Linked DNA regions of Homo sapiens: all the other regions are linked to region 4. Evidence: fine-mapped expression QTL. A gene starts in region 4. Each other region holds a variant in brackets. All regions are shown on one strand. Distances are between the middles of the regions.

Region 1 (6,112 bases), 62 kb after region 4:
CTCACCCCGTCTGCTGCAGACAGTCCCTCTTCATGAGTTGAGAAACATAATTCCTGGCAGCTGCAGTGTCGCAACCCCTTCCTCTACATTTTGTGGAATGAACACAGCTATGTAACTCGCTACCCAGATCAAGAGATGGAACATTCCTATTTATGTTTTAGGAATGTTCTAGCTCCCCAGGGGTGCCCTTGAGCCTCCCCAACCCCCCAAATATAGGACTGTCTTGAATGTCCACACTATAGATGAGGTTAGCCTCTATTTGGCCTTTATATAAATAGCATCATCTAGTATGGACTCTTTTGTGTCTAGCTTTTTCAGTCAACATTACTTTTGTGAGATTCATTCATATTGTTTCTGGTGGCAGTTGTAGTTTATTCATTTTTGTTGCTGTGAACCTCAGTTTGTTTGGTTTTGGTTTTGGTTTTTGAGACAGGATCTCACTCTGTTGCCCAGGCTGGAGTACAGTGGTGCCATCAGGGCTCACCGTAGCCTCAAACTCCTGGGCTCAAGCCATCCTCCTGCCTCAGCCTCCTGAGTAGCTGGGACCACAGGTGCATGCCACCACGCACAGCTAATTCTTTTATTTATTATTATTATTTTTGAGACGGAGTCTCGCTCTGTCACCCAGGCTGGAGTGCAGTGGTGCAATCTCAGCTCACTGCAACCTCCGCCTCCCGGGTTCAAGTGATTCTGCTGCCTCAGCCTCCTGAGTAGCTGGGACTACAGGCACGTGCCACCACACCCAGATAATTTTTTTGTATTTTTAGTAGAGACGGCGTTTCACCGTGTTAGCCAGGATGGTCTCAATCTCCTGACCTCGTGATCCGCCTGCCTCAGCCTCTCAAACTGCTGGGATTACAGGCATGAGCCATCACACCCGGCCAATTATTTTATCTTTTATAGACATGGGGTCTTGATATGTTGCCCAGGCCGCTCTCGAACTCCTGACCTCAGGCATGAGCCACTGCCTCCAGTCTGTGTGTTTTTCTAAAGAATTCTTAGTGGCTAAGGAAGGTTAAGACCTTCCTATCGTCTCTTTCATCTTTCCCCAGAGATGAGCCATTTTGAACATGGATTTGGCATCTGTGCCGCCTCTGAGCCCATGCTTGGCTGATCTGTGGTTGGCGTCTGCCTTCCAGAGAATTCCTTGTTTTCCCACAGTCCCTTTGCAGCTGTTTCATGGAGCACGGGGACGCATGCTGGCTGCTGCCACCAGCTCTGATGGCTATGAAGGTTTGAGACGAGTCTCATAGGTGAAATCTGGGCTCTAAGACAGCCCACCTTTTGAAAGGACAATTCAGCCACCAGAATATCATCTTCGATCTGCTGGTTTTCTCATTTTGGTTTCCAAAAGCCTTTAGCCATTGTTATTATTCCGTGCTTGTCTTGGTGTTAGCTCAGTATCCATGAAACCCGACAAACCTCTTTCTAGAATGAGGCCGGCAAACCAGTCTCATAATGTTCAACCCCAGTGAAGAGGAACTAAACCTCAAAATTGTTGTACCACAAACTCTATTGGCCTTTTATTGGTGGGGATTTTGTTTTTATTACAAGAGGGGTGACTGCTACAGTGGCCTTTCCGGCACCAGGCCGTGCCTGACGGATGAGAATGCTGTGTCATAAACAGTCTTTTGCAATGACTAACCGTGCTGGGTTGGAATGCAGTGCACACCAAAGGAAGGTAGGACTTTTAGTGGTTGTCACAATAGCTGTGCGAATCCAAATATGGCTGGAAAATGTCAACATACTCTCCAGATTATCAGCTCCGACGAATGTAAGAGACATAGTGTTAGGGGGATGTCTGGATAAGTTGAACTCTAATCAGAGGGAAAAGGGGGTTGGAGGAATAATGAATGAGGGAAACACTTTTATTGGGAGAATAGCTTGCAAAACGGCCAGTTGCATAAAGTGTCCTGTCCTAAGAAGTCCTAGTGTAAGCCTCGGCCAGTCCTAAAATATGAATGAGACCTAGGACTTATTTTACGTATTGCTGTTATCCTTACTAGCACTTTTGGAGTCTGCATTCTGGTAATGCCTAAATGCTTGTGCTGAGTTACATGTGGAAACAGCTCTACACAACATTCCCTAGTCTCTTGGACACTTACAGTGTTGGCCAGTCCTTTTCTCGTGATTTTTTCCCTCTGATTTACTCGTGTTGTAACAAAGTTATCACTTTTTTATTGTTTCTCTTTGCTTTCATCCTTTGCATCTGTGGCTGCTCACTTGCTATGCCCAGGGAAGGGGAAGATGGAGAAATAGATTATGGATATGGCACTCCAGGGCCTGTTTACCAACAACCTGAAAAGCTTATATTCTCAGCAGGTCAATACTCCCCATGTCTGAGGGCGAATGTTGTGTGGATTAACAGGCAAAACATGTTGCATAGATTTGCAGATCCACGTTTACAGATTCCCCACTGTATACTGAGGCCATCGAGGAACCTGAATTTGTGTATCCCTTGTGGCTATTGATATGTTGCTGAAGTCAAGTCAGGTATGTATTGAAAAGCATGGCCGGGCGCGGTGGCTCACGCCTGTAATCCCAGCACTTTGGGAGGCCGAGGCGGGTGGATCATGAGGTCAGGAGATCGAGACCATCCTGGCTAACAAGGTGAAACCCCGTCTCTACTAAAAATACAAAAAATTAGCCGGGCGCGGTGGCGGGCGACTGTAGTCCCAGCTACTCGGGAGGCTGAGGCAGGAGAATGGCGTGAACCCGGGAAGCGGAGCTTGCAGTGAGCCGAGATTGCGCCACTGCAGTCCGCAGTCCGGCCTGGGCGACAGAGCGAGACTCCGTCTCAAAAAAAAAAAAAAAAAAAAAGAAAAGCATGTTCTAAGTATCTAAGTATTTAAGTTCTACATGTCTAGAGATAAAACTCTCTTTATACGGGGATGTGAGGAGAGGAACTAGGAGGAGACTTTATCATGTGCTGATTTATGCTCTGCCGGTAATGAGCCATGCAGCCCTAAGCATGTTACCTCATATCTCTGGGACGAATAAAGTGTCTGTCCTTTGGCCAATTTTTTAGCTTCC[C/T]GAATCAGTTTATCGACAAGATGGGGACATGCAGGTGTATCTGCCAGGGTTAGGGGAAGCTCTCAATAGTAACGTGTGCTGAGAACCAGCTGGTGCCCTGCGTGAGTGCAGCGCTCCGTGAAGAACATTGTGTTATGAACTCCTGGGATGCCTGGATTCCCTTCCATTCATCCACTTTGTTCACCTAAAGGGCCAGAGCAAACAACCGTCCACTCAGGTAAACATTCCCACCCCAGAGCGACCGTTTGCATCCTCCAGGAGTTAACAGTACAGCTGGACTCACCCGTGGGTCTCCTGGAAGGCACTGTGTCGGAAACCGAGCTTCTCTCCTGCTTCCCTTGCTGTGGCCTATCTGGGAATCTATAGTCTGGAGCATCCCAGGGCGGCCTCCTTTGGCAGATGGTGTAGGAGTGCTGCAAGCCCTCCTGGATGCACCCAAGGACCCAGGAAGATGGGAGCGTGGATCTCTGTGCCTCAGCACAGAGGCTGGGAGGAGAGACAGCAGGCGCCGGCTGGCAGGAGCAGTCCATGTGGGAGCTTCTGTGTACTCCCACCTCTGCTTCACCTCCTGTTGATCTCTCCTCCCTCTGCAGCACATTCTGCCCTCCTTCCCCAGACTCCTCCCCACAGTTCGCCCTGAAACAAACCTTTCCATGGGATTGATTTTAGAGGCTGCCCATGTGGGACCAGGGCTGCAGCTTCCCTATGGGGGTGCTGGTGGCCTTGTGGCACTTGCTAAGCTGGGCGGGCGTGGCTAGGAGTTTGAGCAGTAACCAAAGTTTCCTCTCTGCTGAGTGCTCCTGGGGTCCATCCCTCTGGGGTGATGGCAGGCAGCTTTACACGTCGCCTTAGAGCATGTCTTTATTTGCTCCTGGATCAAGAACCTTTTGCCATCAATGTAGGGCTGAGCACCCCCACCACCACACATGCCCTGTCCAGATATCTCGCTCTGGGGTAGAAGGAGGCAGTTGTGGGAAGAAGTTTCCTCATCACATTAGCTCTAGGTAATTTCAGAGAACTTTGCCAATCTCTTCCCTAGCTTGTAGGTACAATGAAGATAACACCAGCAGACAAGATAGGATACTCTTTCTTGAGTTTAAAAGGCATCAAAATAGTTGCATGCAATTTAGCAAGGAATGGATACATTAGATTGTATTTAAGAGAGTGCCTGTTGCTGTACAGTTTTTAACAACACGTTGAAGCAGAGCAGGTACCTCTCAGATACTGTTTTGGTGGGGAGGATTGGGGACAGTGGTTTCCTGCTGTCACACTGGGGAGAACTGAAGGAGAGAACACTGCTGCACCTGAGCGGAGACTGACACTTTTGAGGTGAGCACCCTGAACCTTGGGTGTGTATTGTCCCTCTCATACCTGCTGGGCATCTTGGGGCCAGGCTGGGCTGCGTGGCAGCTCTGTGGGATCATTCCCGTCTGCAGCACCCGGGGGCGCTGCTCATTGTGTAGACCAAAGGCCAGCCAGCGGAGATGCCCACTTGCTGACCTTCTTACATGCCTGCTTTTCTGCTACAAGCTGTCATTTTCTTTTATTGATTGGTTGGCTGTCATTTTCTTTTATTGATTAATTGGTTGGTTGGTTGACAGGCCACATCACTGCAGCTTTGGTATAGTCACTTCTCTAATCTTTCCAAAAAGTCGCTTCAGGTTATGAAGTGAGTTAGCGGCCTGCTCCCTGGTTGCTCCATGAGAGTTCGCCCTCTCCTCACAGTTGTACAGCGGGCCAGCATTGTTGTTTGGCTTCCTGGCTCATATGCCCCTTCTCTGTGGCACCCCATGTCCTTATGAAAATGACCTAAGCCAGGCGTGGTGGTGCACGCCTGTAATCCCAGCACTTTGGGAGGCCAAGGCGAGTGGATCTCTTGAGCTCAGGGAGTTCGTGACCACCCTGGGCAACATAGTGAGATCTCGTCTCTGCAAAAAATACAAAAATTAGCCAGGTGCGGTGGCACACAGCTGTAGTCCTAGCTACTCAGGAGGCTGAGGTGGGGGGATCACTTGAGCCCAGGAGGTCAGTGAGCCGAGATCGTGCCACTGCACTCCAGCCTGGGCTAGCGGATAAGACTCTGTGTCAAAAAAAAAAAAAAAAGAGAAAACAAACAGAAAAACTTGTACCCTGGTATTGATAAGTCTTAATGGGAGGGCCCCTGCCTCTCACCACAGCCTTCCGGAAGTCAGCCAGATCCCTTTGTTTCCAGCCCCTGGTAGACCAGCGTGGCCTTATGATCCCCTCTTTGTCAGTCTCATCTCTTCCTCTCTCTTTTTTTAGAGACAGAGTCTCACTCTGTCACCCAGACTGGAGTGCAGTGGCAGAAACACAGCTCACTGCAGCCTCCACCTCCTGGGCACAAGTGGTCCTCCCACCTCAGCCTTCTGTGTAGCTGGGACTGCAGGCACACTCCACCAAGCCTGGCTAACGCTTTTAATTTTTGTAGAGATCAGGTCTTGCTATGTGGCCCAGGCTGGTCTTGAACTCATGGCGTCAAGCAGTCCTCCTGCCTTGGCTTCTCTAAGTATTGGGATTATAGGTGTGAGCCACCATGCCTGGCCTCTTTTTTTATTTTGAGATCATTATAGCTTCAGGTGGCAATACAGAGAGATGCCATGGGTCCTGTACCCAGGTTCCCCACGTGGCAACAGTACCTTTTTTGTAATATGATGGTAACAATGTTTCAACCAGGATATTGCTTTTTTTTTTTTCTTTTTTTTTTGGATAGAGTCTCATTCTGTCATCTAGGCTGGAGTGCAATGGCGTGATCACGGCTGACTGCAGCCTCAACCTCAGCCTCCTGGGCCCAAGCAATCCTCCTACCTCAGCCTCCTGTGTAGCTGGGACCACAGGTGTGCGCCACCACACCTGACAAATTTTTGTATTTTTTTTTTTTTTTGTAGAGATGGGGTGTTGCTGTGTTGCCCAGGCTGGTCTCAAATTCCTGGTCTCCAGTGGTCCTTCTGCCTTGGCCTCCCAAACTGCTGGGATTTTACAGGTGTGATATTGACATAGAGACCGTCAAGACACAAGACATTTCCATCCCAAGAGGTTCCCTCACATTGCCCCTTTTAAC
Region 2 (6,112 bases), 120 kb after region 4:
GCTGCCCCTTTGTTTCCCAGCAGCCCCATCCCTGGAGCCCCCAGCGGCCTCTCTTGGGGGAGAGACTCCCGTAGCACGTGCTGACGTGGCAGCCCCGCTCTGCTCTGCCTCTCCTCTGGCCTCCTTTCTTGTCAGCTGGCTGCGTTCTTCAAAGCTCTCAGCCTCTGGGCCGACCTTGGCTGCGTTCGCATGTTACGGGATCCTTTGGGGCTTTCACCTTTCTCCAGAGAGCTACCTGGAAACATAGATGTCCATTCTCCCCTTTAGCTTCTTCCAGCCTCCATTCCTCTTGGCTGTGTCCTAGTCCAGTCCTCCACCCAGATTGGGCTGAGGTGACACAGACATCCACCCAGAAGGCTGTACAGATTGATAACCGATTGATTCATTCAAAGGGTCTTGCTCTGTCACCCAGGCTGGAGTGCAGTGGCACAATCATGGCTCACTGCAGCCTCAACCTCCAAGCTCAAGTGATCCTCCCGAGTAGCTGGGATCACAGGCATGCGCCAGCACACCTAGCTAATTAAAAAAACAAAAAAAGTTTTTGTAGAGAAGGCCTTGCCATGTTGCTCAGGGTGGCCTCAAACTCCTGGCCTCAAGTGATCCTCTTGCCTCAGCCTCTCAGAGTGCTGGGATTACAAGGGTGAGCCACCACACCACACCCAGCCAATGTGTTCATTTTTAAAGTTTGACTTAAGAGTCCCATAGATTCAGTGTCTTATGTGGCAGTTAGGTCCTTGCAGTTAGTCTCAGAAATCGATTTAGCTCATCTGTTTTCTGAAGGCCCACACATTTGAAATAAAAAAGGAAATAGTTCTGAGTCACCTCCTTCTCAATATAAATAGAAAATGCATTCAAATATTCCCACAAGTTTTGTGTCTTTTAAATCTGCACAAACCCAAAGAATTCCTAGAGGAGGCCGCCAGAGCTAGCAGCACGTGTCAGGTCTGCATCCCACCGGGCCAGCTGAGCAACCCGCTTCAGGCCCCTGCATACCACACAGCTCACCACCGCCTCCAACGCCAGGAGAGTCCAGAAGGCCGGAGGGCGAGGGAGGACTGACGCGTGGGCGGTGACGGCGCGGGAGCCAGTGATGTATTTCTGCTTTGGGCTTTCTCGCACGTGGCACTTGGAGCACATCCTTGGGAACATGTCTGTCCTCTTTGCCAGTTTAAATTTTTGTGTGTTCGTTTCCATACTAGCTCTTAGAATCTAAATCAAGTGTTGTGGATGGTGTGCAAGACCATGGCTGTGTATGTGTGTGTGGGAGTCTCATTGACCACAGTGCTGACACAGTTTCCCTTGGTGGAAGTAAAGAGTAAGTTCAGGACTCCCCTGTAAATGATGTGCTCCCCATGGATGAGGGACAGGAAGAACATCAGGGTACCGTGCCAGCAGAGCTCTGTGCCCTGTTAGTCGAAACAAAAGTGATGGCTGAGATGAGTCCTTCTGTGGCACCCAGGAAACTTTGATAGCTGGGCCAAGAAGCAGCGGCACTGCAGTGCCCTGGGCCGCGAGCATCATGGTTTATGCTCAGCAAAGCCACATCACCTGTCATATAGACCTGACATCAGCTTTACAGTTTTGCTTGCATATAACTTGCAAATTTTGTTTTGTGTTTTATAGCCTAAGAACCATTAAAATAAGGAAACAGATTTTATATAGAGACATTTAGCAGTCTAATAAAAAAAAATAAAAATCACATATTGTATGATGCCATTTATATAAAATGTCCAGAATAGGCACATCCGTAGATAGAAAGTAGATTAGTGGCTGCCAGGGGTTAAGAGGGGAGAAGTGAGGGAGAGACTGTTCATGGGCGTGGGGTTTCTTTCTGGAGTAATGAAAATCCTCTAGAATCTGATAGTGGTGATGGTGACTGCTGTGATATACTAAAAACTACTGAACTGCGCTGTTTCAAAGGGCACATTTTATGATATATTTTATCTCAGTCTTTAAAAAAAAATCTCAACACTGGGAATCCATAAGAAAACTTTTTTTAATTTAAAATGGGTCTGTCAGGCAGGGCGTGGTGGCTCACGCCTGTAATCCCAGCACTCTGGGAAGCCAAGGCGGGTGGATCACCTGAGGTCAGGAGTTTGAGACCAGCCTGGCCAACATGGTGAAACCCCGTCTCTACTAAAATATTAGCCAGGTGTGGTGGCAGTCACCTGTAATCCCAGCTACTCAGGAGGCTGAGGCAGGAGAATCGCTTGAACCTGGGAGGCGGAGGTTGCAGTGAGCCGAGATCGTGCCATTGCACTCCAGCCTGGGCAACAAGAGTGAAACTGTCTCAAAAAAAATTAAAATAAATAAATAAATAAAATGGGTCTGTGCATTAAGCAGCTGTAGTTCAGAGATTGACAAAGTTTGCGGAAGATGAGATGATAAATATGTTTGGCTCAGAGGAACATAGTGTCCCTGCTGCGACCACTCAGCTCTGCCGTGATAGCGCAAAAGCAGCCACACGGTGACCAGGTTGCCCTCCCTGCAGGCCTGCTAAGAGGACTCTGGCTAGATTCCAGCCCTTGCTGGTCCCCCTGGCGTTGGGGCAGGGGGGAGGCGGGCAGCATCCCTACTGTCCCACCGGACCCAGCAGCCACAGGGGCCTTTCGCTTCTCCACATTCCTTCCTGCCCTGCCCTAAAGCAGGAAGCAAGACAAGGAAACCTCTGAGTCAGGTATGTGGATGTCCTCTGCAGAACTCGCCTGGTCCCTTCCTTCAAGTCATTTGTTTCTTTCTGTGAGTCAGCCCTGCCTCCTGTTTACCAGGCACAGGTAGTTTTACCTGTGGCTCCCTGAGCAGAACTGGAGCCGGTGTAACACAGGCTGTGTCTCTGAATAGAAAGTCTCCACACTGCCGTGCCGCTCTCCACTCTGTGTTTGCCCACTGTATGCACCAGAGCACCCTCCCGGCTCCCCTTCTCCTAAGCAAATCCCACACACCTGCATCCCATCCTTCCTCAGATCACTTCCGGAATCATCTGCAGAGTTTGGGTTTCATGGTTTGTGCGACACTCTCAAGCAGCTCACCCAAATCGGGTGGTGTCAGATGGTAAAGGGTTGAGGGGTCTAGGTCAGGGTCACTTGGAAACAAGTTCCTGGGGGAGCAGAGCAACTTTCTTCTCTACTTGGAAGAATATGATAAAGCACCCCTAGACTCACTGGTTTCGAGTTCTAGGGAAGCAGATATTGATGACTCAACAGAGGAAAGGATTGTGTAATCATTGCTTTAGTCAGGGGTTAGCAAACTATGGTCCACAGGCCAACTCTGGCCCCCTGTCTGTTTTTTTAAATAAAGTTTTATTGGCATGCAGCCACATCC[G/A]TTTGCTCACAGGCGGCCTGTGGCTGCTCCCTCTCTATAATGGCAGAGAGTTGAGTCATTGCAACAGATCGGATGGCTCCTAGGGCTGAAAATATCTGCCATCTGGTCCTTTACACAAAGGTTTGCTTGCCGACCATGTTGGGCTTAGTGGAGGGGTGTAAGGGATGGTCTTACATGAGTGTGCTTCCAGCACAGGGAGCATGGAACCCAGTGGCAGTCTGTCTGGATGTTTTCAAAGAGGCTTCTTTGTAATAGTTCGCGATTATCTTGCAACATGATATCCATCTCCCCATCCCTAGTGTGGTTAACTTGGGGAAGTTTGCTTTGTCCAAGTAGAGGGGGCTGTAGCTTGTTCACAGCCCAAGAATGCAGGAGCACGCAGGATGCTGGAGCACCAGCTTTTCTGACTTGTTAGTGATAGCCTGGGTTAGGGAAGGTTGTCCTTGGACCACATGGGCTGGGCATGCCCCTCAATTCATGGAAAGTGACTCAGAAAAGTTCAAGGTTTCACCAAGACTAAGAGGTGAGGAGGAAGTTCTTTCAGAACATAAGGGTACTAGGGTGGTGATTTCATTCTGTTCTTTTTTTATGTGTGGACTTTTTCAAGGGCACAAATGTTTTGTGTCAATTAAAAGCAGATTTGTATGCATTTTGTTACAATGATTATGATTTTAAAGTCTTAATAGTATTATACTATACAATCTACAAAAAGATTTGAGCATCTTATAAGCCCTGATAATTATGCCTCGCTCTAAGAAACATGGGTATCTGGAAAGCCACATTATAAACTTTAATATTATAAATGTGCTTTCTGTTTAGAAGGAATTCTTGGAGGGTCTCCTTTAAGAGTGGATTCCTAGGCCAGGCACAGGGGCTCATGCCTATAATCCCAGCACTTTGGGAGGCTGAGAGGATTGCTTGAGCCCAGGAGTTCAATACCAGCCTGGGCAACATAGTGAGACCCCATCTCTACAAAAAAAATTTAGCTGGGCATGGTGGTGCACCTGTAGTCCCAGTTATTTGGGAGGCTGGATTGGGAGGATCGCTTGAGCCTGGGAGGTCAAGGCTGCAGTGAGCTATGATGGTGCCACTGCACTTCAGCCTGGGTGACAGTGAGACCCTCTCTCAAAAATAAATAAATAAATAAATAAATAAATAAAAACAAAAATAAAAAAACAGGATTCCTAGAGCACAGCCAGCATGCAGAACTTGTTTTCTAAGGCTTTTCTCCAATAAAAGGAACCAGGGCTCCTCAGAGGAATGACTGAGTCTAGGGTTGGGGCAGGGACTGTACAAGATGAGCCTGGAGTATCTTATAGTGCCAGAAAATAAGCGCTCAAATACACCCATATGTAAACCCAGCGGTGACAACAGTGTGGGTATGTCATAGGGACACAGGAACCAACAATGACCAAAGGCAGAACAAGTTAAGCAGCAAAATTAAGTAGTAGTGGATTATAATCCAATATATAAAATGAATCCACAGCCCAGACTGATACGCAGGATGGTTGAATAAATTAACAAATGAAGAATAGAGAAATCTGCTGTGCAGAAAATTGCAAATACTTTATGTAGCTACTGTGCCCTTAAGGAGGTGGAGCATAGCTCCCCCGCTCCCCGCTCAGTGTGGGCTGCCAACAGTAAGCTCCCTCCAAAGAGTACAGTGTGGCAAAGGGGACCGAGGAGAGGAACATCACAGTGGAGAAACTGGTGTATACCAACTTCACCAGGCGATCAGGGCCAACGTTGACAGGTAAGTCACATTGACAGCATGCCCCTTGATATCATAGGATAACAGTGGCACTTCACTTCCATGGTCTCTCTCCCAGAAGTCCCAGGCTAATCATAAAAACACATCAGACAGTTCCCAATTGAGAGACATGCTGCAAAATGCCGGAACAGACCTCTTCAAAACTATTAAGGTCATCAAAAACAAGGAAAGCCTGAGAAACTATCATAGCCTATTCAGGCTGCTATAATAAAACACCTAAGATTATATGATTTATAAACAGCAGAAATGTATTTGTCACAGTTCTGGAGGCTGGGAAGTCTAAGATCGAGGCACTGGCAGATTCGGTGTCTGGTGAAGGTGCTTTCTGGCTCACAAATGGCTGTCTCTCTGCTGCGTCCTCACATGATGGAAGGGGAGAGGGAGCTCTCAGGGGTCCCTTTTATGAGGGCACTAATCCCATTCGCAAGAGCTCCATCCTTATGACCTCATCACCTCCCAGAGGCCCCACCTCCTAACACCATCACCTGGGGGTTAGGTTTCAACATAGGAATTTGGGGGTGGGGGGCACAAGTGTTCAGTCTAAAGCTATAGCACCCTCACAGCAAGAGGAGTCTGAAGAAGCAGGCCTGAGTATGATGCAGTACCTGGATGAGGTTCAAAGACAGAAGGAGAACATTGATTAAACAGAAAATTTGAATAAAGTGTGACCTTTAGTTAATATTAATGTACCAATATTGATTCATTAACTATGACAAACACACCCCATAGTAAGTCAGATATTAATAATAGGGGGAAGTGGGTAGAGGGCATATGGGAGCTCTCGCCTGGCTGTTGCAATTTTTTAGTAAATCTAAACCCATTCTAAAATGAGATGCTGGCCAGGCGCAATGGGTCATGCTTGTAATCCAAGCACTTTGGGAGGTTGAGGCAGGAGGATTGCTTGAAGCCAGGAGTTTGAGACCAGCCTGGGCAACATAGCAAGACCCTGGCCAGGTGCAGTGGCTCACGCCTGTAATCCCAGCACTTTGGGAGGCTGAGGCGGGCGTATCACTTGAGGTC
Region 3 (6,078 bases), 160 kb after region 4:
ACAGGACACATAACTAATCACGGAATTTGGTGCTGGACATAAGACTCACTACTTTCTCTCTATGTGAATCTTTAAATTAGAAAATTCCAAAGGACAGAATACATAGGTCTGTGACTCCTTCCAAAGATATGGGTTGAAACTGCATCTACCATGACGAGCATCGGGGCCACAACTCCGACGTTCTCTAATAGGGCATGAACAGAACGAGAACAGGTTTATTTTATTTTTAAATGCCAATAGTGCCATTAGGAGTCATTCTTCTTTCCCTTAGTCGTATAAATCCCCTATTATTTGGTGATGCAAAAGTGAGCTTTCACGCAGGTCAGCTGCACCTTTCACGTAGGTGCGCCAAGGTGGCAGTGAGCAGTGTGGCCGGGGTGGGGGCCGGCCTAACCAGTGTCTCCGTGTTCCCTTGCCATCCCGTGCCCAACAGCAGGAGCTCATCGAGAGCATCAGCCGCAAGCTGCAGGTGCTCCGGGAGGCCCGCGAGAGCCTGCTGGAGGACGTGCAGGCCAACACCGTGCTGGGGGCCGAGGTGGAGGCCATCGTGAAAGGCGTCTGCAAGCCCAGCGAGTTTGACAAGTTCCGGATGTTCATTGGAGACCTGGACAAAGTGGTGAACCTCCTGCTGTCGCTGTCAGGCCGCCTGGCCCGGGTGGAGAATGCCCTCAATAATTTGGACGACGGCGCTTCTCCCGGTGATCGGGTAAATGCAGATACGTCTGACTTGGAAATGGGGGGTGGTCTCGTGGGAAGGCTGTTTTTCAAGTGTCGTGAAAGTCAGCTCCTTGGAGCCTAGCATAGCTTCCACATGGCCTGTCCACCTCCTCCTGCAGACCTTGTCGAGACAGTGCACGCTCTATACCCTCTCCTTCCTTTTATATTTCTTTAGTTGTTTGTTTGTTTGTTTGTTTGTTTGAGACAGGGTCTCATTCTGTTGCCCAGGCTGGAGTGCAGTGGTGCGATCTCGGCTCACTGCAGCCTCTGCCTCCCGAGGTTCAAGAGATTCTCCCACCTCAGCTTCCCGGGTAGCTGAGCTCCCAGGTGCATGCCACCATGCCTGGCTAATTTTTGTATTTTTTTGGTAGAGATGGGATTTCACTATGTTGGCCAGGCTGGTCTGGAACTCCTGAGCTCAAGTGATCCGCCTACCTCAGCCTCCCAAAGTGCTGGGATTACAGGTGTGAGCAACTGTGCCTGGCCTCCTTCCTTTTAATTGAGGGGAAAAGGTGCTTATCAGATGCAGGGAGTTGAACCGTCATTGGACTGCAGGGTTGCGGGATCTTCTCAAAGAACTGTTACCTCTTTTTAACATCTTTTTAGATATTCCTATTGACTCTTACTGATAATTGTCTCTTCTTAGAAAAATCATGTTGTTGTTGTTTTTACTTTTCTTTTACCATGTATAAGTCCGTAACAGACATGCCTGCCTGCTGACGATCGTAAGTACTCAATGATAGCTATTTTCTTGTGGTGGTTGTAGCTGTGATTTAACAAGAGGGCATGTATCAGTCTAGAAGGAAGCAGACAGTGCATCTAACTTCAAGGCGTTTCTCAGTGGGTCTGTCTTTTCGTCCTTTCACATATGAACCAAGAGAAATAATAGCTGCCTCGTTGGCTTTTACCTCATAGGCCAAATATCAGTAAAACAGCTAGTTTTGTTTGCACAGAACAGGCCTTCAGAATGTTCATCTGTATCATGAATAAAACATCTTAACCTCTCTCAGAAGGGGAGCAGAAGAAGCACCCTTCCCCTTTCTCCAGGTGAGGGTGATTTGGGCCACGCAGAACGCTGTCCTGGCGCTGGGCTTGGAGACGGTGCCCTTCTGCACTCAGCCGAGTGCTTAGTAACTGTGTCGTGGAACTAGCTAGGTCAGGGTGGCACCGTGCCCGAGGGGGCTGCTGGCCGACACCCGTGCACAGCACTGCGTCTTCTCCACCCTCAGGCTTCCTTGTGTGCAGATATGCTCTGCAGGCTCGGGGGCTTCTCCTCCTCCTGCCAGGAGCATTTAGTAAGCCTACCCTGAATTCCTCTCGAGTCCACCCATGTGGCCAGCTGTCCCACGGTGTTCCCATGGAGCGGACCTTGACGCCAAGAGGGCCCCGCAGTCCTTTGCCCTTTGCAGCATCTCAGAATTCTGTCGTTGTGAGTCCCTTGGTGACTCTTCTGCTCACCATTCGAGGCAGGTGGGAGAGAGTCAGGCTCAGACAGCAAGAGGAAACCCAGAGAGGCCTGTGGGCGGCTTCTGGGGGCCTCAGGCTGGCCCGCTGCAACCATGAGACACATGCCCCCAGGCCCTGGGCCCTGGGTTTGTCTGTGTGGACCCCATCGGATCTCTGGTGGCATCAGGGTTTCCATCGATAAGTTGTGGGACCAGCCCACAAGTTGCCAGTGTCTTCAAGGGTTGGCCAGTGCCCCAGCTTTCATCCTGGTCCTCAACAGGCTTGTTTGTCTGTCAACAGCAATCACTGCTTGAGAAGCAGAGAGTCCTGATCCAGCAGCACGAGGACGCCAAGGAGCTCAAGGAGAACCTGGACCGCCGCGAGCGCATCGTCTTTGACATTTTGGCCAACTATCTGAGCGAGGAGAGCCTCGCGGACTATGAGCACTTCGTGAAGATGAAGTCGGCCCTCATCATCGAGCAGCGGGAGCTGGAAGATAAAATCCACCTTGGTGAAGAGCAGCTGAAGTGCTTATTGGACAGCCTTCAGCCCGAAAGGGGCAAATAAGAGACCAGTCCCCGGTGGAGGAGGGGCACGGGGCCTCCGAGCTCCAGCTCCGTTCCCAAGGATACTCGTGAAGACCCCATCTGTGTTCATGGCCTGGAAAGAGACTTCTCCCATAGCAAAGAGGCTGTTATAAAAGCAATAACTTTTGTGTTTGTGTGGGATGATTTATTTAATTTTTTAGTTTCCCCTTTGATTGCTGAGAGCCATTTTCCTTTACACATAACTACACCTGACACCAGGCTCTGCTGGATGTGAGTTTCCACTGCATGGGCTGTGGGCTGGGCCTGTGGTGCCTGCCGAGTGGTCACTGTCAGTGGGAAACCCGTTGTTCCTCCCGTCTTCAGATGCTGAGCCAACTGCTTGGACAGCAGCCAGCGCGTCATGACGTGCATGAGAGGGGGACCCTGGTGCTCATCTTCTCTTGTCATTCATCCAGGCATGGGCTGCCAGGTTTTGTCCCTGCTCGTTCAACAGTGTGAGCATTTGTCTCTGTTATCTAATGATGTTCTCTGACCCAGCAGAAATCATCATCATGATGATGATAATTTATTAACTTTTTGGAAGGGTGAATAGTTTCCTAATGGTTAAAAACCAACTGTGAAAGGAACCACCTGTGTGGTTGGGTTCACTCATTCTCAGATTAAATTGCCACTTAAAGAAATAACGTGCATGCTTTAAAAAACACAGTCACGCACCAAGCAGGCAAATAGCTTTAGTCCTTCTCACCTCACATCACAGTTGTTCTGCAAAGTAAAATTTTTTGGTTAAGAGCGTGTCCAGTAGTAATGTGCTTGTTAGCTGTTTCTCAAGACCAACAGAAGATTTTTTCAGTTACTTTCCCCCCATGTATTTTGTATGCATATGATTGTCC[G/A]TGATAATTGGCTACTTTTCCATTGTTTCCTCCTTAAATCGTTTAGCATGGCATGAGGGCCACATTCCATGGACGGGAAGACCCCTTCCTCTTCAGAGGTCCCGTGGACTACACAGCTCCTGAGCTTGATCTTTTTCTGCCATGAAGTTTAAAGATTCTATGCCCATTTCCTTGATTGAAATGGCAGGATTCTAAAGAGAGCCTGGTTTGTTAAAAGAAAACACTGTCATGCTGTCAGTTCCCAATTGACAAGTCACAGACTGGGAGAAAATATTTGCAAATCGTGTATCTGACAAAAGGTTTGTGTCCAGGATGTACAAAGAACTCTCAAACCGGATAGTAAGAAAACAAACAGCCCAAGTGAAAAGCAGGCAAAAGACTTGAATAGACACTTCACCAAAGAGCATACACGCGTGGCAAACAAGCACACGAAAAGACGTTCAGCCGCCGATGGCTTGGTTATAATTTATAACTTACTTATTTTTATCTAATAATTGTAGATTCAGTGTATTTCTTCAAAAAATGTTTAATTAAATGCATGTTAATGGTGAGTGAATCCCTTGGGTGACTTCGTGTTTAGGTCGTATTAGGGCATTTGTTGGATCAACGGATCATTTTAACCCTGACTTCCCCTTATTCCCATAAAAGAAGTTTTCCAGTGGAATGGAGATTTCATTTTGTCAGCAGCAGTGACCACAGCCTTACCAAAGCAGACGCGTGCGCGTGCACAGATGCACACACACAGATGTCTTAAAAGACTAGAATCCACACTTCCTGAGCCAGAGGGGCCGTGTTGACGGTAATGCATTCTCTATAGAGCCAAGTCCAAACTGGCAAGCTCAATGATGCAGGCAATAAACCGCCTTTTTGGCAGCCTACCAATGCCAAAAGGATAAATGTCTTTCCAAAAGTGTGTATTCCTGTTAAATTAAGCTCTTGCTAACTTGAAAAATCCCTGTTCTGCCAGCGAAGCTTCCTCCTCCTCTCCAGCTGGTAGTCACTTGCGTGAATGCTGGTCAGTCTGAAAAGGTGAAGCTGGCTGTGCACTTACCCCCATCTTTCTCCCTCGGGGAGACGACCCAAGGAATTTCAGAGTATTTTGTTTGGCAGAGCTTTTACCTGTTATTCTTTGCCCTCAAATACAGTATTGTGGTCATTTTGATGATATGTGTGTAAAATGTGAATAATCCAATTGGTGTCTGTACTCAGCCTTTTGATGTCTTTTTAGGACTTTCTCTTCTACACAGCAATACGTCGTGCTCGAGTATCCTTGTAGCAAAGCACATAGAGCCAGCTGTCCTGTCAGTTCCCCTGTTTGCCTCTGAAACGTCTGGTTAGTGGGGACCCAAAGATTCTAGTGAGTCAACATCCATAACTCTGTATCTAGTTGTATTATTCATAGAAAATCAATCTGGTGCTAATGGTTGGCCCTGGTGTTGTTGGGTGGCAGCTGCTCCTTCGCCCTCTTGTAGTGTGGCTGTGGAGGGCTCTGCCTATGGGGGGTGGCCTGTGGCTTGTATCCTTCAGTCCACCACAGCAAATGTGTGTAGATTTCATGCTCGACACTTACCACTCACCTATCAACAGATCATCCTGCTTGACTGTAACAAAATAAATAGTGTCTCTTCAAGTGAATGGAGATGTCTTTGATTTACCTACTTTACAGCTTTTGTAAAAAAAGAATGTCCTCACCATACGTCAGATTCTTAAGCCATCTGAGTAAACCGTGGGATTGATTATATGTGTGTAATTTATTTACACTAGTCGGTTTGTGGTGAGGAAACAGGGACCAGGTCGCATCACTTAGCTGGTGCCCCAGTAATGCTGTGTAACAAACTGTAAAATGTCAGCAATAATCTGTGCAACAAAGTATTGACTTAGCTCATGAATTTGTAGATGAGCTAATTCGGGCTGGGCTCTGTGCTGTGTGCCTCTCCTCTTCCTCATGGGACCAGCCGTGTGGCTGGATGTGTTCATGGCAGGGGCACAAGACAACACACCCTGTCACAAAGGGGCTTCTCCTGGCTTTGTCCTGTCATACCTGCTAACCTTCTTCTGGCAAAGCACATCTCCTGGCCAACCCCGGCACCAAAGGGTGTGGAACAGGCTCCACCTTTTAGTGGAGGAACCGTAAATTCACATGGCAGAGTGTGGACACAGGGAGGGATGAAGAACTGGGGCTGTCCATGGGCTCCATCTCGCCCGCCTCCTCGTGTCTACTGATAATGGAGTGGCACCAAAGTGGCTGGGACCACGGAGTCAAGTTGCCTGGAGCAAAGCCACCTCTGTCACTGCTAGTTGTGTGGCCACAGCAAGTAACCCAGCCTCTGTGAGCCCCAGCTCCTCTCTCGTAATTGGAGATGGGCTGCTGTGAGGTCAAGTGAGTTGATAAATGTTGGTGTGCTTAGACGCCATGCTTGGTTCACAGCACGGCTGCATAAGCTGTGAATACGGCTCTTATCCTGTTGTGCACCTGG
Region 4 (6,112 bases):
ATTCTCTGAGCAATGAACAACCACAGTGAGAAATTACACAGAACAAACATGCCCCTCAGCTTTCCAAAAGGACAAAAGACTAACATGGACAAATGGATTCTGCTTCTGAAAATTCCACCTGAGTTGTGAGTTCTCAGAAAAGAAAGCCATCTACTAGGAGTCCATACACTGGTTCAACGTCATACTAAAACTCTCCCAATGGGGGTGCAAGACTGATCAACTGGGGTGATGCCTTTCAGCCACAAGATATATTTTCACAAGATTATTGACAGTGTCTTGTGATGACAAAACAAACACAATATAGAAGTGCTGTCATCGCACCTAGACCATAGTAACCCCAAGAATATCACAAAAGGATTTATGACTGAGCAGGCACCTGTCTCATAGCAGGCCACACAAATCTTGGTTCAGTCCCTTACAGCATAACATCATTATAGACAGCAGCCTTATAAATATTCCAACCATCCTGAGATGGATGCTTAATGTGAAGATTAAAAAAACAAAACACCCCAGCTAAACACTGTTTAGTAAGGATGGATGTAAATTTCTAGCTAAGTTTAAGAACAAGGGAGTCCTTTTAAAAAGTATAAACCTTTCAAGTGGCAGATGGGTAATCTGACAATGATTACGTACGGTGAACATAAAATGTTAAAGATGACTTTGGGGCTATATAGAATAATGCTGGATTTATGGAGACAATGAAATCACTGTCTCTGCTTTATAATGAGTCTAGTGGTCTGAATTTTAGCCCCAGGTAAGAGCTTAGACTGAAGTCTATACCAGCTTGGGGTGGGGAGGTAGGGAGTGGGCTGTTTTGGGAGACGGACATGTCTGCAAACTCTAATAAGCACACTGGGTATATTTATACAGCTCTTTATCTTTTGGTTTATCATATCCATCCATTTCTTAAACTTTGTGAGATAACTGGATTTACATGTAGTTGTAATGTGTCCAGAGTTGGTTCCTTCCGGTGGGTTCTTGGTCTTGCTGACTTCAAGAATGAAGCTGCAGACCTTTGCTGTGAGTGTTACAGCTCTTAAAGGTGGCACAGACTCAAAGAGTGCGCAGCAGCAAGATTTACTGTGAAGAGCGAAAGAACAAAGCTTCCACAGCATGGAAGGGGACTGGACCGGGTTGCCACTGCTAGCTGCAGTGGCCAGCTTTTATTCCCTTATTTGACCCCACCCACATCCCGCTGATTGGTCCATTTACAGAGTGCTAATTGGTCCATTTTACAAACCTCTAGCTAGCCACAGAGCGCTGATTGGTGCATTTTACAATCCTCTTGTAAGACAGAAAAATTCTCGGAGTCCCCACCCAACTGGCTTCGCCTCTTGGTAAGGAATAATACAGGGAAGTCCTGTGCACCCTTCACTCTTCACCTGCCTGTTCCAATGGCAACACGTTACAAAACTACAGCACAATGTCACAACCTGGAATATGGACATTGATACAATCCACCAAGCCTTTTCAGATTTCCCGTTTCACGTGCATTTAGTTCTGTGCAATTTAGCTTAATCAACTTGGCAGCTCCTGTGACCATCACCACAGTGAAGATACACTCGACTTGATTCTGAGAGGCACATTCCTTAAGCCTTCGTTTAATCTTTGAAAAAGAAAAAATCGCCTCATTCTTCTAACTAAAGGCATTCAGAGACTGTAGTTAGAAGTTAATTATGGGGCAGTCACCACGTGCCCAGCGCCATGACAGGTGCCCAGTGGAGCTGCGACTCTGAATTTAATCGGCTGCATGAGACACCTCCACAGAATGCACCCCTCTCACTTGACCTCTGAAGAAACAGACCAGAGCTGAGATTTCTTGTCCCAGCTTGACAGTGGCAGAACCCAGACCCGGGGACCCTTGACTCTCTGTCCAGTGCTCTCCCGGCCTGTCCTGGATGCGTACTCCAGCATCGTCACCTCTGAAAAGGGCCTGGATGGAGCTGCTTAGAGAAAAGAGGTGTTCACCAGCCTTCAGCTACGTATAGAAACAGCAACGAAAACAGCTTTTTTGCAAAGCATGTAAATACCTATCCATGCAGGTACTTTAGACCAGAGTTTCATGGAAACTGAAACCGAGCAGGAAGAGGTGGCACACATGTTGTCCGCAAACTTTCACCAATCCCAGACCTCCACCTCCCCTTTTCGGGGATGTAAACCTGGGAAACTTGAAGACCTTGTGGTCCAATCCTAGGCGAGTGGGGACAGCATCTAGACGCAACGGCTTTCTGCGCGGTGGCTGTGGGAGGCCTCTGCGGGAAGGTGGGAAGGCCCTCGTGGAAACGGGGCACGGTCCTTCTGCGCCCGCCTTCCAAGCCCCTCCAGAGGCCGGACCCGCGCCCGGCTCAGGCTGCTGGGGGGCGCCCTTCCCGGCTCTCTAAGTCCAGAGTGTGAGTGCGCGCAGGGCCGCGCGGGACGGGCGGTCCCTCTGCCCCGGGGCAGCGGCCACAGCGCGGGCACCAGGGCCTCCCGCGGCGCTTCCGCTCTCACCTGCGCGGCAGCCCGCGGTGCGCGAGAACAAAGTGTGGGCGCCGGCGGGCCGCGCGCCCCGAGACGGAGGAGGCCGGAGACTCCCGCCACGCCACCCCGCGCCCATCTCACCTGCCGCCTCACCTGCCCGGTCCTGGCCTCCAACCGGCGGGCGGGGGCGCCCAGAGCTTCGAAGCACTGCAGAGCTCTGGCGCGGGAGGAAAGGCCCGACCTGGCGCCGGGGCCTCCGCCCCCGTCCTCGCCCGCGCTGGCTCCGCCAGCCCCGGGGCGCGCGCTCCTCGACCCCGACCCCGAACCCGCTGAACGGCGCGCGCGCCTGAGCGCCCCTCCCGGCCCGCTCCCCTCCACCGGGCGAGAGAACCGGGGCGCGCCCCTCTCCAGCTCTCCCCGGTACGAGCGGCCGCGTGGGCCCCTGAGCGCGCACCTGACCCCGTCCCTCACCCTTCGGGCCGCGGGCTGGACCTCTGGACGCGCTCCCCGTGACCGGCCCCGCGGTACGAGCTCCCGAACGCGCCCGCCCCGCCCCCCGTCGGCCCCGCCCCCTCCCCGCCAGCCCCGGCCCCGGCCCCGGCCCCGGCCCCGCCCCCTCCCCGCCAGCCCTCCGGGCTCCCTCCGCCGCCGGGCCGGCACTTTCTTTCCAAGTTACGGCGCAAGTTCTGCGGCGCTCGGAGCCTCCCTTGCGATCCCACGGCCGGGACTGCCCGGAGTGCATGGGCGCGGGCCAGGGACGCTGAGCGGTCGCGCCATGGAGGGCGCCGAGCCCCGCGCGCGGCCCGAGCGCCTGGCCGAGGCCGAGACGCGGGCGGCGGACGGCGGGCGCCTGGTGGAGGTGCAGCTGAGCGGCGGCGCCCCGTGGGGCTTCACCCTGAAGGGCGGCCGCGAGCACGGCGAGCCGCTGGTCATCACCAAGGTAAGGCGGCCGCGGGGCGCGGGCGCTGACAGCCGGGAGCTGGCCGCCCTGCGGGGCGCGTCGAGGTAGGGGCGCGGGAGGGGCGGTAGGCTCGCGCCCCCGGGTCTGGCGCGCGCGTCTGCTGGGGTCACCTGCCGGGCCTGGGCGCCGGGACCGGCGTGGGCGTGTGATCCTGGCGGTTCCCCGCGCCTCGCAGAGTTTAAATGGCTCCTGCCCGGAGTCCCTTTCCCCTCCCCCTCCCTCCTCCGGGCAGGGGCCTGGCCGGGTCCTCTGGCGCTCCCGGGCCCGCCAGTGGCGGCCTGCACCTGCGGGGCTGCCTGGAGGCCAGCGAAGGAACGTGTCCCCGAGCCGTCCCCACCTATGTTTGCCTCTCTGGGGTCCCTGGTTCGGCACCCCTTGGACCCGTGCCTGTGATCACTACGAAATCCAGAGTAGCAGCTGTCGCCAGCGCAACTTCTCGATTCCCTTCAGCCCATCAATGTTTACTGACTTTCGGCTTCCAGTCCCAGATCCACTGCGCACTGGATACCTGCGCAAACTTAGAGAAACCTGAAAGCCTGCTTCCTAAGAGCAGGACCCGAGTTCTAATAATAATAAAGAAATTCCAGATGTATCTCATCAGGAATGTTGTGTGTGTGTGTGTGGTTTGCTTTAGAACATTGAATTTTATTGTCTCAAAACAAAATCCATCTGGAAACTTACCAGTTGAACCTGTATGAACTTGTAAAAGCAAACACATAAACAACAGTCCAGTCACCCTGTGTTCTAGTTAAAAGTGTGTAGTGGTCATTTTCTCTGGGAAGGGTTGAGTCGGACCTTTCGTGTGGACGAAGTTCCTTTTAAAATGTAAAGATTCTTGGCGACTAGAAGCGTTTGAAGATAATTTACTGGTTTTCTCGGCTTTCCTGCCTCTCCACAGCAGGAAGAAATTAAGTGATTCCTAACCCGCCGCACTGGTAATCAGTTTGGGAAGTGGGATGGCTTTGTTGTTCAAATAGCAAATGAGACACCAGCGTCTTCCATTCTATATTTTCTGTCGCTTTTATGATTACAAAACTTTGTGGAGGGATTTGGAGAAGCCTTGTTTAGCTTTGCACTAAATTTTTGTTGAACTCAGGAAAGAGGTTGCCATTGTTATAAATTTGACCAATGTGTAATCTTTTATCACACTGGCTTCTTTGGAAACATGGTGGACAGTCATAAAGTGTGTATACTCTGCCCAGCCAGAACACTCCTCTTTTTTTTTTCTTTTATTTCTTTTCTTTTCTTTCTTTCTTTCTTCTTTTTTTTTTTTGAGACAGGGTCTTGTTCTGTCAGCCTCCTGAGTAGCTGGGACCACAGATGTGCGCCACCATGCCTGGTTAATTTTTTAAAATTTTTTGTAGAAACGGGGAGTTTCACCATTTTGCCCAGGCTGGTCTCGAACTCCTCTGCCTCCCAAAGTCCTGGCATTACAGGCATGAGCCACTGCGCTTGGCTCAGAATGTGGATTAATCCAAGCTTTGAATCTTCCTCTCCCAAAAGCTACTGAAAAGTCACTGGGGCTCATTAAAAAATAGCTCTTCTAATCGTTTTTTTTTTTCCACTTGTAATTAAATAGTTACATATTAGAGCCCTGGAATACTGTACAACTCACTTGCTATTTAGCAGACTCTGATTTGGGGATAGCTTGCATTAAGGTAAGAGCGCACCTTCTCTTTATGATAATGAGGGTATCATTTGAAAGCCTCATGGGAGTGCGTGTAGTAGAACTGGGAGGGGTGTCAAGAACAAGGCTGGTTCGGTCCTGGTCTTCAGATGGAATTTTATCAGCCCATTTTATAGATGAAACAGCTGTGGCCCAGGCAGGGCAAATGGTGTATCCTGAGGTCACAAACTGTTGAGTCCTGGGAAAGGCCCTAAGAATCAGACTCTGGCCCCAGTGTTCAAGCCTGCTGCTCCCCTTCAGTCAGTGCCATCTGCTTGGGTCTGGGATCTCCTGCAATGCCATATTGAATACCTTCGTCACATCGGTTAGGTGAGGGTTTGCCAGCCTTGGCATTGGGGACTTTGTGAGCTGAATCTCTTTGCTGTGGGGCTGCCCTGTGCTTTGGAGGATGCTCAGCAGCCTCCCCAGCCTCTACCTGCTTGATGCTACTGTCACCTCTCTCCAGGTGTGATGACAAAAATGTCTCCAGACATTGCCAAATGTCCTCTGGGGGCAAAATTAGCCTGGTTTTGAATCTCTTTTGTTAGATTAACCATATATCACCTTTGCTCTTAAAGGATTCTTGCTCTTAAAACTTCTGTTTCTTTTTGAATAGACTGGCCTTTAGGGTGGTGTGTTTAGAGGCCTCTGGCATTGCCAGTGTTTGCATGGAGAGCTGTTTTCCTCCCACGCGTTGGCCCTGAGAATAGGCTTTATTTACATAGTCAAACTCAAACAAATACTTGCTTCATCTGCATTTTTTGTAGCTGGAGAAAGGAAATTGAAGCAGGAACTCCCAAGTGCTGTGTTTTATGGGCATCCACAGTGGCTGTTCAGAATCAGGACTGACTACTCTCTGGGTCTAGTTTGAAGCTAAAGGGATACCAACTTCAGAGGAGTAGCATTCTTGGAATTTGGGGTGCATGCATGAAGCCCAGCAGAACCTCCGCTGACAGATGGCGACAGGATTCATCACTCCTCAGTACGTTTCTGCTGATTTCTGCCTTGAAATTTTGCTACAGTTG
Region 5 (6,112 bases), 150 kb after region 4:
GTGATTCTGCTGCCTCAGCCTCCCGAGTAGCTGGGATTACAGGCACCTGCCACCACACCAGGCTGATTTTTGTATTTTTAGTAGAGACGGGGTTTCACCATGTTGGCCAGGCTGGTCTCAAACTCCTGACCTCAGGTGATCTGTCTGCTTCAGCCTCCCAAAGAGCTGGGATTACAGGGGCAAGCCACTGGGCCCAGCCTCTTTCCCAATATTTTAAAACCTGTGAAGGGAGATTTGTTTATGTTGTTTAATTTGTTTCTATTGTGCACATCAAATTTCTGCACAAAAGGGGGAGGATACCAATACAGGCTGATGTGAAAGTCAGTAATAGGCAAGCAGAGCTTCTCCCGGGAGCCGGGGGGGCGGGGGTGAAGGGAGTGCAGAGGGTTCTGCGTTTGCTGGTGCTTGGATAAGGTGGCCAGGTTTTCCTCCTTCTTTTATTATTATTATTATTATTATTATTTATTATTATTATGTTTTTAACAGAGAGGTGGGGAGGTCTCACTGTGTTACCTAGGCTGGTCTCAAACTCCTGGGCGCAAGCAGTCCTCCCACCTTAGCCTCCCACAGTGCTGGGATTCCAGGTGTGAGCCACTGTGCCTAGCCAGGGTTTTCCTTCATAAGTCTGACCTATCTAAATGGTATTTTCCACAGTTAGACTTTGTAAATTGTCTTCATGAGGAAGCAGTTGTGAGGTGTCTGTGAGTCCCTAGATAAAACACATCAGATGTTGCTGAACCCTACTGGAGAGAGGGAGGAAAATACGCAGTTAGTTCATCTCAGCCTGAGCACCACTGCCTTGATAGGGAAAGAGCCCTCCTGCATTCCCAGTCACCAGTGAAAGAGGGAAAAACAGCATTAAATTTAGAGCATCGTGGCTGCCCTCCTGCTGTGGAAAATTGGATACATTTGTGTAACATCGTAGGGGCAGTTTTGGGTTGACTTCATTAGAAACACATCCTAATTTGGGGTTGTGGAGTTTGGCCTGTTTCTTTTTGCTTCCCTCCTGACCACCAGCATATGGGGCTGCTTCTCCAGTGCTCTGAAAAGCTCTTGGCTGAGATGGCCCTGGTCAGCATGGTCTAGCACGGTGCCGCTGAGAGCAGCAGGTGCAGGGCTGCCCCAGACAAGGGACTGTGGCATTGCTGGGCCTGTTCCTCCTGTTCTCTCTCCCCCAGTCTCCCAGGGATGCTTTAGGTACCTCTCTAGTCCCTTTCATCCAGAAACTTTTCTTTTTTTTTTGAGATGGAGTCTTGCTCTGTTGCCCAGGCTAGAGTGCAGTGGTGTGATCTCAGGTCACTGATCTCAGCTCACTGCAACTTCTGCTTCCCAGGTTCAAGCGATTCTCATGCTTCAGCTTCCCGAGTAGGTGGGATTACAGGTGCGCACCACCACACCCGGCTAATTTTTGTATTTTTAGTAGAGACAGGGTTTCTCCATGTTAGCCAGGTGGGTCTCGAACTCCTGACCACAAGTGATCCACCCGCCTCGGCCTTCCAAAGTGCTGGGATTACAGGCATGACCCACCACATCTGGCTGACACTTTTTTAAAAAAAAAGCAAAACTGTGCCCTTTGGAAGTAATACAGAACCGATGACTCGCTGCTTACTGCGAGATCGTATCTCACTGGTGTGCAAATCTGTGCAACGCTAGCTTGAAGCACAGCGGGCGGGGGGTACAAGGACAGTGTTGGGTGGGCTGTCCTGCATATGGCACAGGAGGTTCTCCCAAGTGGGGTGGTGGGGGGCTTTGGCCTGACTCCAAGCACGGCCACTCCGGAGAGGAGCCCTCCCCAGGCCCTGAGAACTACGCAGGAACCCGCGGGCCTGCACCAACCTAAGGACGGATGGGAATCCTGGAAAATGCCCATCCACTGCAGGCTTCCCCTACAAAAGAACATTTAACCCAACAGGGCTTGTTGAAGTTTGCATTATCATCTGCGGAATGACAAATGGTATTAAATAGTCCTCACAGCCCTCCACGAACCCCTGGAGGACACCTTGGGATGCCTCAGGGGTGGCATTGGCGGTTTGAGCATAGAAAGGATGCTGTGGTTGGAAGGCGGAGGTAGGAGTCAGAGGGAGCTTCTTGAGGCCTCTGCCTCATCCAGGATGTGGGATCATGGAGGCTCCTTCGAGTTGGGTGGCTGGCTAGTGCCTTTGAGTCAGGTTCCCATCCAGAGGGGAGGGCAGGGGACACGTCAATCAGGGTCTGTGGCTGGAGCATGCTTTGCGATTTCAGCAGACTGTTCATCTTCCAGAATTGAGCGGGTGATGGACAACAACACCACGGTGAAGATGGTGCCCATCAAGATCGTGCACTCGGAGAGCCAGCCAGAGAAGGAGAGCCGCCAGAGCCTGGCATGCCCCGCCGAGCCACCTGCCCTGCCCCACGGGCTGGAGAAAGACCAGATCAAGACGCTGAGCACATCTGAGCAGTTCTACTCGCGCTTCTGTCTGTACACGCGGCAGGGTGCTGAGCCCGAGGCCCCACATAGGGCCCAGCCGGCTGAGCCCCAGCCCCTGGGCACCCAGGTGCCCCCCGAGAAAGACCGCTGCACCTCCCCTCCAGGGCTCAGCTACATGAAGGCCAAAGAGAAGACTGTGGAAGACCTGAAGTCGGAGGAGCTGGCCAGGGAGATCGTGGGGAAGGATAAGTCCCTGGCCGACATCCTGGATCCCAGTGTGAAGATCAAAACCACTATGGACTTGATGGAAGGCATCTTCCCCAAAGACGAGCACCTCCTGGAAGAAGCCCAGCAACGGAGGAAGCTGCTCCCCAAAATCCCCTCTCCTAGAAGCACAGAGGAGAGGTGAGTAGGCGTGGCCTCCCAGCTTGGGCGTGACTCTGCCTGGCATCTCTTAGGCTTGTAAAGGGAAGGGGGTCTGCCTCTCTGTTTTCATGCGTGCTTTTGGGGAAGACGGGTTTTCATAAGGGCTCCTCGATGCTTAGCACTTTTTGGCTTTTTTGTGAGCCTCCGGAAAGAGAAATGGAGGGTTAACGGCTTTGGGCCTGACATGAAAATACACACTGCAGACCACCAAGCTGCCTTGGCCTGAGGCCAGCAGGATTTCTGATGATGCCCACAGGTCTCCTTTCTCGTAAGACAGCTGTTCTCAGTGGGGGCCGCTGTCTACCCTGGGGGACAGTTGGCAATGTCACTGTGGGGAGGGGTGTTCCAAGCATCTGGTGGGTGGAGCCCAGGAACACTGCTCAACATCTACAGTGCACAGGAGG[GC/G]CCCCCCCACAGAGAGTCATCCAGCCCCCACGTGTCCCTAGTGCCAACATGAGAATGAAGGCTTAGATTGAATATATATGTGTTTCTTTATGAAATGTTTTTTTAAAACTTTATTTGAAATTTTTTTACATCTGCATTTAAAAAATTTATTATAATTTGGCCAGGCACAGTGGTGCACACCTGTAATCCCAGCACTTTGGCTGACCGAGGTAGGCAGATCATTTAAGCCCATGAATTCAATACCAGCCTGGACAACATGGCAAAACCCAGTCTCTACAAAAAGTACAAAAAATTAGCCAGGCGTGGTGGTAGACACCTGTAGTCCCAGCTACTCGAGAGGCTGAGGTGGGAGGATCACTTGAGCCCAGGAGTTGGAGGCTGCAGTGAGCTATGATGGTGCCACTGCACTCCAGTGTGGGTGACAGAGTAAGACCCCATCTCTTGAAATAGAAATGAAAAAAAATTACGACAATTTACACCTGCCTGAACAAATGTATTTTAATTGGTTTTGTAAGTAGCACTTTCAGCGTATCTCCTTCAGCCACTTGACCACAAAGGCATGCGTGGTGGCATCTTCCCTGCTGCTGACATATGTTCTGCCAGCACAGCGTCATTCATGGGTAGGAAGGTGGAGTGGGTATGACACACAGCCAAGGAGGAGCAGCTGGACCAAGTGGACCCAGGCAGGAGGGCGCCGACAGGGCTGCTGGGAGGAAGGGAGAAGGGTTGGTGTTTGTAGATAGCGTCACACATGTCCTTGTCCTCATCAACCCAGGCTCCTGGTAGAGATCATCTGTGCTCTCACCTCTGTAGCAGAGATTCTTAGATATTCCTGCTTATTTGAGTTTTTGCCTTTTTTAAAAACTATGTTTCATACACTTACGAGTATCCATTTGACAGGGTTGATGGTTTTTAGTTTTAACCTTGTTACCTACTTACTTTTCCCCCTTTGGCTGTCTCATCTCCCTGGCTGGTGTCCTTTCGTGAGCACCAGTGTTGATTTGTCACAACCCAGGGGGTGGGGCAGAGGGGCTGTTTGCGTGCACAGTCCCAGCTCATTGAAGTTCCCACACCTTTACCCAGGAAAGAGGAGCCCAGCGTGCCTGCGGCCGTGTCCCTGGCCACCAATTCTACCTACTACAGCACGTCGGCCCCCAAGGCGGAGCTGCTGATCAAGATGAAGGACCTGCAGGAGCAGCAGGAGCACGAAGAGGATTCGGGAAGCGACTTGGACCACGACCTGTCGGTGAAGAAGGTAGGAGAGTCCATTCCAAATGACAGCGTGTGCGTGTCCAGGCAGGGGCAGGCATCCGGATCACACCATCCTGCCCCAGCGCAGACCCTGCACCACGTGTCCCAGGGCGTTTGTGTTCAGCTTTCACTCAGGACAGTGGAATTTGAGGTGATATTAGTGAAGCCCTCTGTTGTTAGTTCTATGTCCTAATCTTGAGCCATTCCACAAACGTCTCTTTGCTGTTTCAATAGGATCCAATGTCAAATTAGTTTAGTCACCATTCTCTTTCATTTTATCTTATTTATTTATTTTTGAGACAGGGTCTTGCTCTGTCGTGCAGGCTTGAGTGCAATGGTGCAATCATGGCCCACCGCAGCCTTGACCTCCTGGCCTCAAGCGATCCCCCTGCCTCAGATAAAGGAAAATTATTTTCAAATTAGAAAGTGGTAACTTTTTTTTGAGATAGAGTCTCCCTCTGTCACCCAGGCTGGAGTGCAGTGGCACACTCTCAGCTCACTGCAACCTCTGCCTCCCGGGTTCAAGCAATTCTCCTACCTCAGCCCCTCGAGTAGCTGGGATTACAGGCACCTGCCACCAAGCCTTGCTAATTTTTGTATTTTTAGTAGAGATGGGGTTTCACCATGTTGGCCAGGCCGGTCTCGAACCTCAAGTGATCCACCCACCGCAGCCTCCCAAAGTGCTGGGATTACAGGCGTGAGCCACTGCTTCCGGGCTGGAAGATGGTAACTTTTTGGTTCAAGGTATTAAAAAGGGAAATGAAAATTAAGGGTTTAGGTCTTGGGGCTTTTACGGGCCCTCCATCTGGCACACGGTACCATTCGCTTCATTCTGGTTGCACATTCCTCTTTTAAAAAATAATAAAGAATCCAAAACATGTTCGGTTTTTCCACACAGAACCAGGAAAATCATACCATCTGGACCATTTGAATTTGGGTCACACCCTAGGTTTAGAGAACTGCATTCTTTGCTCGCATGCCTTTGTTTTTCATGATATAATGAATTTCAGAAGCGGCATGCCTTGATTCTGCCGCCCTCATCTGTGGGGCACTCTGTCCACCTGCTTTGGGAGGCTGGAGATGCTGGGAAGCCGCCTCACCAGAAGTGTGGCTCCGGAACTGAGTGAGTCACTGTGGGCTGGAAGTTGGCCTCACTTTAGTTCAGCAAGTGTGAGTTGGGCACCTGCACCAGAAGCACATGCTGTACATCCCAGCTCTCTATGGTGCTGATGACTCAGCGGTCCTGTTTTCCTGCTTGATTGGACAAAGCGGCCACTGCTGCATTACATTTTCTCCCTGCTTTCCCGCAGCCACACGCTTATGATGTCGCACATTCCTGCAACGCGTGCACAGGCGGAGGCGTGTTCAGGGAGGAAGCGAGCATAGCGCAGATGGGGACTTAGCAGGCCACCTGCTCTGTAGCTGCTTCAGGGGAACATATGAGACCCTAATTCCGTAGGCTTCCAACATTCCCAGGGCGACCACAGTTGTCTCAGTCACAGCATTGCTAGGTGGTCATAGAGCTGAGAGCCAAATCAGGGAACCCTCTGTTTTAGGAGAAGACTAAGGACAGAGTTGAGAGAGTGGAAGCCCCAGGCAGGGAGGCAGCAGGGGGCTCTGGTG

Alleles and levels. Positions count from the first base shown, and alleles are read on the strand shown. Sizes are in standard deviations (SD) of each study's normalised expression. Not every link is listed here.
As copies of A replace G in region 2, the expression in fibroblasts of the gene that starts at base 3,119 in region 4 goes down (small effect, 0.20 SD a copy in GTEx).
For the expression in sun-exposed skin of the gene that starts at base 3,119 in region 4, allele G in region 3 goes with a lower level than allele A (small effect, 0.18 SD a copy in GTEx).

The links. PIP is the estimated chance that this variant, and not a neighbour inherited with it, causes the effect. A credible set is the group of variants that fine-mapping cannot tell apart.
Region 1: its variant is the best candidate, but not a certain one, in a credible set for the expression of SHROOM2 in sigmoid colon (GTEx, PIP 0.78).
Region 2: its variant is the best candidate, but not a certain one, in a credible set for the expression of SHROOM2 in fibroblasts (GTEx, PIP 0.90).
Region 3: its variant is the best candidate, but not a certain one, in a credible set for the expression of SHROOM2 in sun-exposed skin (GTEx, PIP 0.68).
Region 5: its variant is the best candidate, but not a certain one, in a credible set for the expression of SHROOM2 in lung (TOPMed, PIP 0.61).

The regions. Positions count from the first base shown.
Region 1 is chrX:9,845,712-9,851,823 of GRCh38, forward strand. All of the region lies in intron 1 of SHROOM2 (shroom family member 2), which reads left to right. Among named protein-coding and RNA genes, the nearest start is that of SHROOM2, 62 kb to the left of the region's middle. The variant C/T (reference allele first, on the strand shown) is at 3,034.
Region 2 is chrX:9,904,495-9,910,606 of GRCh38, forward strand. All of the region lies in intron 5 of SHROOM2 (shroom family member 2), which reads left to right. Among named protein-coding and RNA genes, the nearest start is that of CLDN34, 60 kb to the right of the region's middle. The variant G/A (reference allele first, on the strand shown) is at 3,322.
Region 3 is chrX:9,944,208-9,950,285 of GRCh38, forward strand. SHROOM2 (shroom family member 2) reads left to right here. Exons shown (of 10, transcript NM_001649.4): 9 at 434-706; 10 at 2,464-5,236. The coding sequence ends at 2,730. Among named protein-coding and RNA genes, the nearest start is that of CLDN34, 20 kb to the right of the region's middle. The variant G/A (reference allele first, on the strand shown) is at 3,602.
Region 4 is chrX:9,783,311-9,789,422 of GRCh38, forward strand. SHROOM2 (shroom family member 2) reads left to right here and starts at 3,119. Exons shown (of 10, transcript NM_001649.4): 1 at 3,119-3,400. The coding sequence starts at 3,236.
Region 5 is chrX:9,934,874-9,940,985 of GRCh38, forward strand. It overlaps SHROOM2 (shroom family member 2), which reads left to right. Exons shown (of 10, transcript NM_001649.4): 7 at 2,261-2,812; 8 at 4,322-4,493. Among named protein-coding and RNA genes, the nearest start is that of CLDN34, 29 kb to the right of the region's middle. RefSeq lists enhancers at 4,490-5,689, 5,774-6,112. The variant GC/G (reference allele first, on the strand shown) is at 3,238.